Linked DNA regions of Homo sapiens: region 2 is linked to region 1. The links come from fine-mapping of genetic effects on gene expression. A gene starts in region 1. The other region holds a variant in brackets. All regions are shown on one strand. Distances are between the middles of the regions.

What was found. PIP is the estimated chance that this variant, and not a neighbour inherited with it, causes the effect.
Region 2: its variant is fine-mapped to the expression of TMEM242 in whole blood (TOPMed, PIP above 0.99).

What each region holds. Positions count from the first base shown.
Region 1 is chr6:157,321,553-157,326,923 of GRCh38, reverse strand. TMEM242 (transmembrane protein 242) reads left to right here and starts at 3,405. Exons shown (of 4, transcript NM_018452.6): 1 at 3,405-3,512; 2 at 4,119-4,219. The coding sequence starts at 3,425. It overlaps TMEM242-DT (TMEM242 divergent transcript), which reads right to left and starts at 3,290. Exons shown (of 1, transcript NR_187268.1): 1 at 2,447-3,290. LOC105378076 (a long non-coding RNA gene) reads right to left here and starts at 693. Exons shown (of 3, transcript XR_943165.2): 1 at 5-693. RefSeq lists enhancers at 2,693-3,122, 3,303-3,642.
Region 2 is chr6:157,271,776-157,277,146 of GRCh38, reverse strand. No RefSeq gene overlaps it. Among named protein-coding and RNA genes, the nearest start is that of TMEM242, 49 kb to the left of the region's middle. RefSeq lists silencers at 1,952-2,511, 2,712-2,801, 3,232-3,391 and enhancers at 2,186-3,017, 3,018-3,850. The variant G/A (reference allele first, on the strand shown) is at 2,553.

The DNA.
Region 1 (5,371 bases):
TCACCTGTTTGGAGCTTGTGTCATATCTTCCTCTAGTAACAAGTCTAGGTGGAATTGTGGAATTCTTAGAGCAGTGCAATTAATCAAATTGTACCCAAAGTACCCAACTGGGTGTCCTGTAGAGATATGAGACCTTGGGAAACATTGTCTTTAAAAAATGCTTTCTTTCAGCATTCCAACTTGGGATGCCTGGAATTTGGTCTTATCCCAGGGCCAGGGACTTCCCGTCCCAGTGTGTGGCAGGCTTCTGAGGCTCTGGAAACACCATCTCCCAGGATCTGGCACCAAGCAAGTCACAGGGCAGGTGCTGGGGGCTAGTGAGAAATGGGGCTGTAGTAGTCTCCACAAACAGGCCTTGACCAAGGAGCTCGCACCTCCTCCTCTCCTTGGTATGTATCCCACAAAGATCCTCAAAATGCAAATTTTGAGGCTGAAGTGTAAACCATTGGTTTGTGTCAATTGCCTTTTCAGTCCTGTGTATATTGGGAAAACAAGCTTTCAAGTAGAAAAAAGGAAGATTGCCTTTTACTTTGGGGATTTAGAAAGAAGATAGAGGTTTGTGAGCTGCAACATCCAAAACAAAGCAGACACCAGTTTCCTAGGATGTGCAGTTACTTTCAATGGAGACCAGCTCTGGAATGCAGGACTCTGTAATTTCCCTAGATTACAAGATCTATTATCTCCCTTCTGTTCCTTATAGTAAGCAGTGATATAAACCTTAAATTATTATTATTATTATTATCATCATCATCATCATCATCTTGAGACGGAGTCTTGCTCTGTCACCCAGGCTGGAGTGCAGTGGCATGATCTTGGCTCACTGCAACCTCTGCCTCCTGGGTTGAAGCGATTCTCCTGCCTCAGCCTCCCAAGTAGCTGAAATTACAGGCGCCGCCACCACACCCAGCTAATTTTTATATTTTTAGTAGAGATGGGGTTTCGCCATGTTAGCCAGGCTGGTCTCAAACTCCTGACCTCAAGTGATCTGCCTGCCTCGACCTCCCAAAGCACTAGGATTACAGGTTTGAGCCACTGTGCCCAGCTTAATCCTTAAAATGTTTCTGTCGTTTTCTAAGGGGACAGCAAAGAAGAGAGTGGAGGAATCTGCACTTTTTCTCCCTAAGCAGTCTTGGGAAAACAGATTTCCAAGTGCTAAAGTGTATGGTGTGGATTTTAAGAGGTGTAATCCATAAGAGGAAGGCACACAGAAGATGTTCTCGAAGTGGAATCCGTGGCAACAGCATCACCTGGGAACTTAGACATACACGTTCTCAGCCCCCACTGAGTCACAGACTCTGGGAATGGGGCCCAGCAAGCTGAGTGCAATAAGCCTTCCAGGTGATTCCAATATTCAAGTTCACACTTGAGGACGACTGGCACAGTGGATAAGGAAGGACCTGCTTTTAAGCCCTGTCTCTGCCACTTAACAGCTGTGTGAGCTTGAGCAAGTTAGTCTTTCTGAGTTTATGGAGAGGAATAAATGAGATAATGTACTTGAAGCACTTAGTGCAATGTCAGATATATAGAAAGCACTCAATACATGTTAGCAGCTATGGTTACTGTTATGTATGAGGGGAAGGAAAAAGGATAGGTCCTTCAACAAATTAGCACAGCATTTACCAGCTTAAAAGCCCTTTCAGATACTGACGTGTTTCCAGGAAATCCAAAGGTCACATACATTCTGTGTGATCTCATCCACACAAAAATTTGAACAGAGCAGTAGTTTTTTATCATCAGAAACCCCACGGAGCTTTTACATTCTGCCCTGCCACCCGCGGGCCTTCAGAGCTCTAATCTCCCGTGGTAGATAGACCTTGATAATCCATCATTTTTAAAAATCCCCATAGGCAATGCTGCAAAATAGCTACTGGAATCAAAGGTGGTAATAGTTAGAGCTAACATGTATTGAATATTTATATGTGCCAGGCACTGTGCTAACTTCTTTATAGATGTTGCTTCATTTAATTCTCACAGTAATCCTATGAGTTAGGTACTATCAGTTTTTGTGTGTGGGGGGGGCGGGATGGGGTGGATGGCAGAGTTTCACTCTTGTCATCCAGGCTGGAGTGCAACGGCTCGATCTCGGCTCACTGCAACCTCTCCCTCCCAGGTTCAAGCCATTCTCCTGCCTCAGCCTCCCGAGTAGCTGGGATTACAGTCCCGCATCATTAGACTCCGCTAATTTTTGTATTTTTAGTAGAAACGGGGTTTCACCATGTTGGCCAGGCTGATCTCGAACTTCTGATCTCCACCTGCCTCAGCCTCCCAAAGTGCTGGGATTACAGGCGTGAACCACCGCGCCTGGCCTACTACCAGTTTTTAAATTTTACAGGTGAGGAAACTGAGCTATAGAGGGGCTAAGTTACCCCAAGTTCACACACCTGAGAAGCGGTTTAGGACCCGAGCCCAGGTTTGAGCTATTAACTGCACTTCACTGACGCAAAAATGGATGCATTCATTTACTCATTCATCCAACATGCATTTGATGTTGGTAACCAGTTAATATCTGAAAGCTGGGGGATATAAACTGAACATAGAGTCCCATCTCCATCCTCAGGAAACTCATGCCCTCCGGTGATGGGGGGCAGGACAAATAGCAGAGAGACCGCCTTATTTTACAAGATGTCATTGTTCTCTGAGAGGCTGAAAAGATTTTCTATCACCACTAGCCTCCTCCTCTCCACGGCCATTTACAGAATGGGCAAACCAGCCTCCCAGCGGAAGACCAAGCTTGCTAGCGGTCAACGTTGCCGGCAGCTCTGCAAGCGCTTCCAGCGGGCGTCGCTCTCCTTTCGGGGGTGGTACTTTCATTCGGTCATCCTGTGAGTGTTCCACTTCCCGACGGAGGCCGAGCACTCACACCGCGGCGGAGGTACCCGTCACCGCAGAACCGGGTGGCTGGCTCTCCTCCAGGGAGAAAGCCTGTCACTTATTCCTCAACACTGTTGGGAAGTTACCTAGAAAAGTACAGACAGAAGACCTAGGCTTGCGTTTTAGAATCGTGGAGTGTTAGCGCTGGCCAAATCGTTGGACACAATGTAAGCTTGATCAGGAAAATGAGCTCCAGGGTCTCACAGGCGGGGCCTGGAATCTTGGCGCAATCTGCGACCCTCACTGCCTCCTACAGTCGGGGCTGAGCGTTCTTTCAAACAGCCAAAGTAATCACTTAAGTCCAGCAATGATCTCCTTGGAGAAATCAAAAGATCCTCCCTAAGAGACGGCCTTGGAGGGCATCGCCCCTGGGGCTGGGCACAGCACGTCTTCCCGGCCCCGGCGCGGGAGGAGGGTTTGGGGACAGCGGCCGCACTCCGGACCCTTCTTCAGATTGCACAGGAGGAGGCGGTAGCGGAACCTTTCTCCTCCGCCTGGTTCTCGCTTCCACCCGGGCCCAGTTGGGGACGGACGCACTAGAGGCGACCTAAACATGGAGACAGCGGGCGCTGCAACTGGGCAGCCGGCCTCTGGGCTGGAGGCTCCGGGGTCCACGAATGACCGGCTTTTCCTGGTTAAAGGTAAGATGTGCTGTGGTGAGGTGCGGGCGTCGGGGTGAGTTAACCCCGGACCCTGGCTTGCTCTGGAGCGGGCATTCCCACACACATCCCGCTCTGAGAGCCCTTAGCTTGTGCTTGCCCCTGAGTTTAGCCCGCGGAGTCTGGCGGCCCAGGGAGGGTAGGTCGCTTACTGGGTGGAGTCTCCCCTTGGGCGGGGCGGGGGGCAGATCCCGCGAGCTATTCTCCCGGGCGTGCCATATTTCCCCGTCACCTCTGCAATTGTTCTAGAGCCTTGCCTTTTCTGATTGCCATCGTCTCTTCTCCTCCCCGTGAGAAACTTCACGCTGTGGTCCCAGGGGAGAGGGGAAGGGAAGCTGAACCTTTTCTCTGCGCTCGGGAATAATAATTCGGAATGACCCAAGGAACCAGAGGTCGTGCGGTCACGCGTGTTTCTCAGCCGCTGTCATTTACTGTTAGCAAGAGCTGCTTAGCCATGGTTTCTTGAATTTCAAAAGTGATTTTGATTGTAACTCGAATAGTATCTTAAACTTACTTTTGTACATCTTTTTAACCTCTTTTTATTTAATTTTTTTTAATATCCCCCCTCCTCCCCGAAACTCTTGGCAGGTGGAATTTTCCTTGGTACCGTTGCTGCAGCGGGAATGCTAGCTGGATTTATTACAACATTATCATTGGCTAAAAAGAAAAGCCCTGAATGGTTCAATAAGGTTGGTGACACTGAAATCCATTCATAGCATTGTTATTGTTTACAATATATGGCAGCTTTTGCGTAGAAAAAATAAAATATTGATGGTCTTTCACATTGCTTTAAGATGTGAATTTATATACGCTCATGGATTCTAGAAATGTACAAATTAACCAAGTCTTTATTTTCATTTAGAAGGATGTACTTATGTGCTTTCTTAAATTTTAGCGGAACAAGACTTTGAAAGCTTATCTGGTACATTTCCTATTCACAACATGACTTTGAATCTAAATTTGGGCCAGGCATCGTGGTTCATGCCTGTAATCCCAGCACTTTGGGAAGCCGAGAGGGGCAGATCACCTGAGGTCAGGAGTTTGAGACCAGCCTGGCCAACATGGCGAAAACCCATCTCTACTAAAAATACAAAAATGAGCCAGGTGTGGTGTGGCACTCCTGTAGTCCTAGCTACTCGGGAGGCTGAGGCAGGAGAATCACTTGAACCCAGGAGGCTGAGGTTGTAGTGAGCCCAGATAACACCACTGCACTTCAACCTGGGTGACAGAGCGAGACTCTGTCTCAAAAATAAATAAATAAATATTCACACAAATAACTGTGTAATTACAATTTGATGTGTGCTATGGAGGAAAAGTGTTACGTAAAACATCATAAAAAGTCAAGTTTCCTTTCCACTTACATTTATCTTTAATAATCATACTTAAGCCTTATCGATACCATAATGGCAAGAGACCATGTTTAAAGTGTGCTTGGATCCCCTCTGAATGCTCTAAGCTTATATGGAGCTTCCTAAATCACTGCTATGGACCTTGTGGGTCATTTTCTCTCTATGTTATAGAATGTTTTCAGAGCAGAAATATATTTTGTGGTGGAAATCAGAGTAGTGCCTTAACAGTAGAGTTTTGGTTGATTTCTAAGCCTAAGTTATGTTAATCCTTGGCTCACTGATCTTTTTAATAATCTGATGAAAACTAGGGATTCTCTGGGGCTGAAGAGCGCACGTACACATATCACAACTTTCCATCCTATTTTGTTATTCTGAGATTTGATCATCACAGATGCTCTTCGGGGTCTAACAGTGGTTTTCAAACTGCAGTCCACAGAACCCTGCTGATCCTTGATCCTTGGGTCCATGAAGTCAGAACTATTTTCATAATGA
Region 2 (5,371 bases), 50 kb after region 1:
CACACACACTCCCCTCTCCGTGCAGCCCCTGCACCCCCTCTTTCTCAACTCTCCCACAGCCAGCCTGGCCCTGCTCCTGGCCTGCGAGACCCCTGGGTCTCTTCCCCACCCCCATCCTTTCTGGACACTTTCCGCCTTATTCTTCCGGCAGCTATCTTGCTTATTTACCAGGGTCGTGTCTCCTTAGAAGGTCACATCCCCTGGTCCTGCCAGAGCGTGGCGCCTGTGGCCAAGGGGCACCCTCCCCAAGCTCACCTCCTCAAGACAGGCCCAGACTCTCCACATCTTCTGAGCCACATGAGCAAAGCACCTGCCATTTATAGAGGCACCGAGTCCTAACTGCAGGTCATATTTTCAGAGAACAGCCCTATTGATGAGTCTAGGAAACTAAACTCAAAAAGTGACGGCAAAAGTCATAGTTCCAGAAAGGTTGGCATGTGGCATTATTCCACTGCAGACAGTGACATCCAACCCACTTAGGTAGACAGATGCACCTTTTCGTGTGCGGCCATCATGGGGCACTGGAATTTTAAACCTTTATAATCTACTTTCCCCATTTTCCCTCAGTGAACATGGCTTGCTCTTCTAACTAAAGAAAGTGAAGGAGGGATATTTGTGGCATGTTTGTTTTTTGAGAATAAAATAATCGTTGCCTACAATACATGGGTTGATCTAAAACCCCAAGCAGTCCCCAGGCCCCCTCCCTCCCTGGGGAGTGGAAGTGCTTGGAATCCTCCTTGCTGGGACTCAGGGCTGGGCTCTTGCCTTCTAGGGCCACTCCGGTGAGGTGAGATCATGACAACTTTCAAGGTTCTCTCTGCCTTGGGAGTGAAGCCCTGTGGACTTTGCACGCCCACCTGGAACAGGCCTGCTGTATGTGGAACTGTGTCCCCACAAAAGGTATGTTAAAGTCCAAACCCCTGGTGTTGAAGATTTCAGTGTTGAAGCCTTCTTTGAAAATCAGGCCTTTCCATTTTCAGCAAGTTAAAATGAAGCTATGTATGTATACACACACACTTTATTTATTTTATTTTTATTTATTTATTTTGAGAGGGGGACGCTGTCTCACTCTATCACCCAGGCTGGAGTACAGTGGCGCGATCTCAGCTCACTGCAATCTCCGCCTCCTAGGTTCAAGCGATTCTCCTGTCTCAGCCTCCTGAGTGACTGGGATTACAGGCACCCGCCACCAGCCTAATTTTTCGTACTTTTAGTAGAGATGGGGTTTCATCATGTTGGCTAGGCTAGTCACAAACTCCTGACCTCAGGTGATCCGCCTGCCTTGGACTCCCAAAGTGCCGGGATTACAGGAGGTTTTTTTTGTTTTGTTTTGTTTTAAACGGAGTCTCACTTGGTCGCTCAGGCAGGAGTGCAGTGGCGCGATCTCGGCTCACTGAAACCTCCGCCTCCCAGGTTCAAGCGATTCTCCTGTCTCAGCCTCCTGAGTAGCTGGGATTACAAGCGCCCGCCACCACCCCTGGCTAATTTTTGCATTTTGGGTAGAGATGGGGTTTCACCATGTTGGCCAGGCTGGTCTCGAACTCCTGACCTCAGGTGATTCGCCCTTCTTGGCCTCCCAAAGTGTTGGGATTGCAGGCGTGAGCCACAGCGCCCGTCCAAAATGAAGCTAAATTTGATGAGAGTGGGCTCTACTCCAAGACCACTGTTGTCCTTGTAAAAGGAGAAAAGACAGACACAGGGACACAGGGCCATGTGGCCACAGAGGCAGAGACTGGAGTGACGGGAGACAAGCCCCGAACACTGAGGACCCTGTACCCCAGAGGCCAAGAGAAAGGCATGGAACAGATTCTCTCCCCCAGCCTTCGGGGACCTTGACTCTGGACTTCCGGCCTCCAGAACCGCGTCTGTTGCTTGAAGCCTCCGGGTCTTCGCGGTGCAGAGAAGCGCCAGGCCTCCAGGGCCTCGCCTCCCGCCGCCCGCGCCCGGCCCCGGGTCCTCCCTCGGAAGCCGCCTGTCTGTCTGCCGCCGAGTCCCACCGGGCTTCGGCCGGCACTGCCCGTTTACCCTCCGTCCCTCCCATCCCTCCCGGCTCCTAGAGGAGCTGGGTCCGCGTCTAGCTCCTCGGCCCTCCCCGCGCGCTCGGCACCGCGCACGGCCCACGCTGGACAGATGTCCCCGGCCCTCTCCCCGGACGCCCCCAAGGCCCCTGCCTTCCAGGCCGAGCCTCCGCTGCCGCCGCTTCCCCGCGCTCTGCAGTCCCCGCGGCGCTCCCGGGGCCGCCGCTCGGCCGTGGTGCTCGCTTCGCCCAGCAGAGGGCGGCCGAGGCGCGGGCCTAGGCGGGGCTGTCGCCGCCTGTACGGGGCGGGCGGAGCGGGGCGCGGGCGACCTGACAGCGAGGCCCGGCGGCGCGTCCCCACAGCGGCCTCCCGCCCCGTCCGGGACCGGGGCTGCGGGGATGACCCCTAGCTGGAGGCCTTGGCTGCCTTTTGCTCTTTTGTTTTCTGTCTGGTCCCCTGGAACCGGGGCCACTGGAGGCTCCCGGAAACGCGCAGGCGACATCTCCCCGACCGTCCTCATCAGAAGCCCACGGA[G/A]CCCGTCCCGCCCACGCGTCCTGAAGGCGTGGCTGCGGGTGCCGTGGTCCCCAGGTCCCGCGTCTGGCCGCGCCCACCTGGCATCTCCCTGGACGCCCCCAGGCGCAGAGACTGAGCCTCCTCCCGGCTGCAGCGTCGGTCCCCGGGCGTGGCCGCCGTTCCCTGTCCCCCGCGCGTGCTCCCAGGAGAGTTCAGTCCTCAGCGCCCGCAGCTGCACCCTCTCGGAGCCCCTCATTTACCCACCTGTATCCCACTCCCGACCCCGGAACTCTCAGCACCCAGGGGCCGCCCTCTGCATGGTGGCTGCCAAAACCCAAAAACCAGAAGTGGGCTTTTCCTAGTGCCTTTTTGAGATCTAAGTGGTGTTTCTGGCGGTTTGGGTTTTAAGGTGCCATTTTCTGTCTACTTTCTTTACTTTCTCGAATGACTTTTTCTTGTTATAAGTAACTACATGTTCAAGGTCAAAAAATGAGAAAACATAAGCAAAAAAGGCACCTGAAATCCCAGCTTCCATCAATAACTATAGGAATATTTTGGTGTCTGCTGCCACATTTTCCCCTCTGCGTGTGGGTGTGTGTACGGTGATATGTTATTTTTCCAAAATAGGGATCCCTCCCATCCACCTCGGCAATCTGCTTTTCCACAGAGCAAGGCAGTGAGAACGTCTCTCTGTGAACCACAGTGAAGACGCACCCAGCAGGGTATAGGAGCTGGGCCCGCTGGGAGGGCGAGTGTGGGCGGGGCATAGCCGGCAAACCCAGCCCACCCGAGGCCTGGCCAGGGGAGGGCCCTCCCTGTGAGCCTCCTGGGGGCCCATGGGCCCTGTTACCTACGTCGCCTTGGTTGGTGAGGTCTCATCCCTGGCTGCAGCTGCCGGGCTTCAGGGTGTCCTTTTAAAGAGCACCTCGAAGAAGAAAATCCCATCCTTTCCTCTAGTCCCGGAAGAGTCCATCTGCAGTTGAAACAACTCTGCCCTTTGTAGAGTGGCTCTTTCTTGTGTGGATTTAAATACAAGGAATACAAAACAAATTCATATTGACCCCAAGGAGCCCCATTCCTCCCTCCGCCTCCGGACAACTAGGGTGCCTCCAGATCAGCAGTTCTCAATGAGAGGCTGGGGGGAGGGGGTTGGTGGGTGGAGTTTTGCCTCTCTTCCCCCAGGGGACGTCTCTGGTATTGCCTAGAGACACTAAGAGGGTGCTACTGGCACCTCGTGGGTAGAGGCCAGGATGCTGCTAAGCATTCTGCCATGCACAGCACAGGTCCCCACGAAAAAAGAATTCACTGCTGAAAATGTCGGTAGTGCCCAGATTGAGAAATCCTGTCCAGATGTTTCTCGACACTCTTCCAGGGGTCCAGGAGCCCAGGAGTCCCGAAGCCTAGGTCTGCCTACAGCACCGTCCAAGGGGTAATGGCCCTGGCTGATCACTCCCAGGCCACGTCCATTAGCCCAGGACCTGAAACGACTGGCGACCAAGAAGGGCCAAGAGGTTGCAACTGCAGTCTGTGGAAATGAGAGGCCCTGGGCAACGGGGCGTCAGGGGAGGAGATGAATTCAGTAGCTGAGGCTCTGTTTCGTTTTGTTTCACTGTGCATGGATTCAGGTTGTTTCCTAAGGCTCTATGTGCCTCGTTTATGAGTCTTTCCTTTCAAAACAATTCAAGATGTCCCAGCATTTCAACCCTCTGACTGCAGAACTCCACATTGCTAGAGCTCAAAGGAACCTTTGACATTTTCCACTCCAACTGTCTCGTTTTCAGGGAGCCAGACCAAGGTTTATGCACAGCTTCAGTGCCTCAGTTTCTTCCTCAGTAAAATCACAAATAATGACATCTCTCTTTGGCCAGCCCCCCCCCCCCACCAACTCCATGCCTCGGGCACTCTCACACACATTATCTCTGATACATCTACCCTGGGAAGGAAGTTGCCCCTCCTATTTCCCAGGTGACAGCGCTGGGCACTCAGACTGCGGGGAACTGACCTATGACCACACAGCGAGCAGGTGGAGGAGGGGAACACCAGCCCTGGGTTTCTCTCGCCCTAACAGCGGACCAGGCCACGGGTTCTCAAGCATGGCTGCCCATCAGAGTCATCTGGGGAGTTTTAAAAATCCTGGTGCCTGTCACACCCCCTATCACTGTCATGGATATGTGATGGAGGCCAGGGAAGACTCAGCTTCAAGAAATGGTGAGATCTTTGAATATCTTCTTGGTACCAGCCCATATTTTTTGAATTGAGAACCATTAGGATTAGCTACAAATGAGTTTTCTTTCCATCTGAATATTGAGAACTGTGTTTTCTGGCTGCTCTTTCCTCCCTGGATGTTTGCAAAGTTGAAAAATCAGCTAAAAATATATGCAGGGGCCACACAAGGCAGGAAGAGTGAGCCCAAACATCCCGGCTCTGTGCGGGTGGCCAGGGCCAGCTGCTTCCCCAGGCTAGAGGGCGTAAGGCACCACATCTCCCAGGGATATTTGCATTTTCAGCAGAAACTCTGGAACATGGAAAGGTCTTCAGATGAACAGCATATCAGAAGGCAGCATTTCAGGCACCAAGAGGCCAAGGGAGGTGACTGGGTCTGCGGGGGGCTGCTACCTCACCTGCCTACCCTTGTGCAGTCTCTCCACAGCCCCTCTGCAAGTCTATCTGCTCATCTGTCTCTAAACTGCCTCAAACTTGAGACAAAGCATACAGAACCCTCTAGGCAGGGTAGCTTCTCTTGAGTTGGATGTACCATCTGCATTTTAGTCTCACTTTTGGTAATAAGAGCGCTTTGAGCCTTGCAGAGCAATTGGGCAGCTGGCAAGCTCTGACTGTTG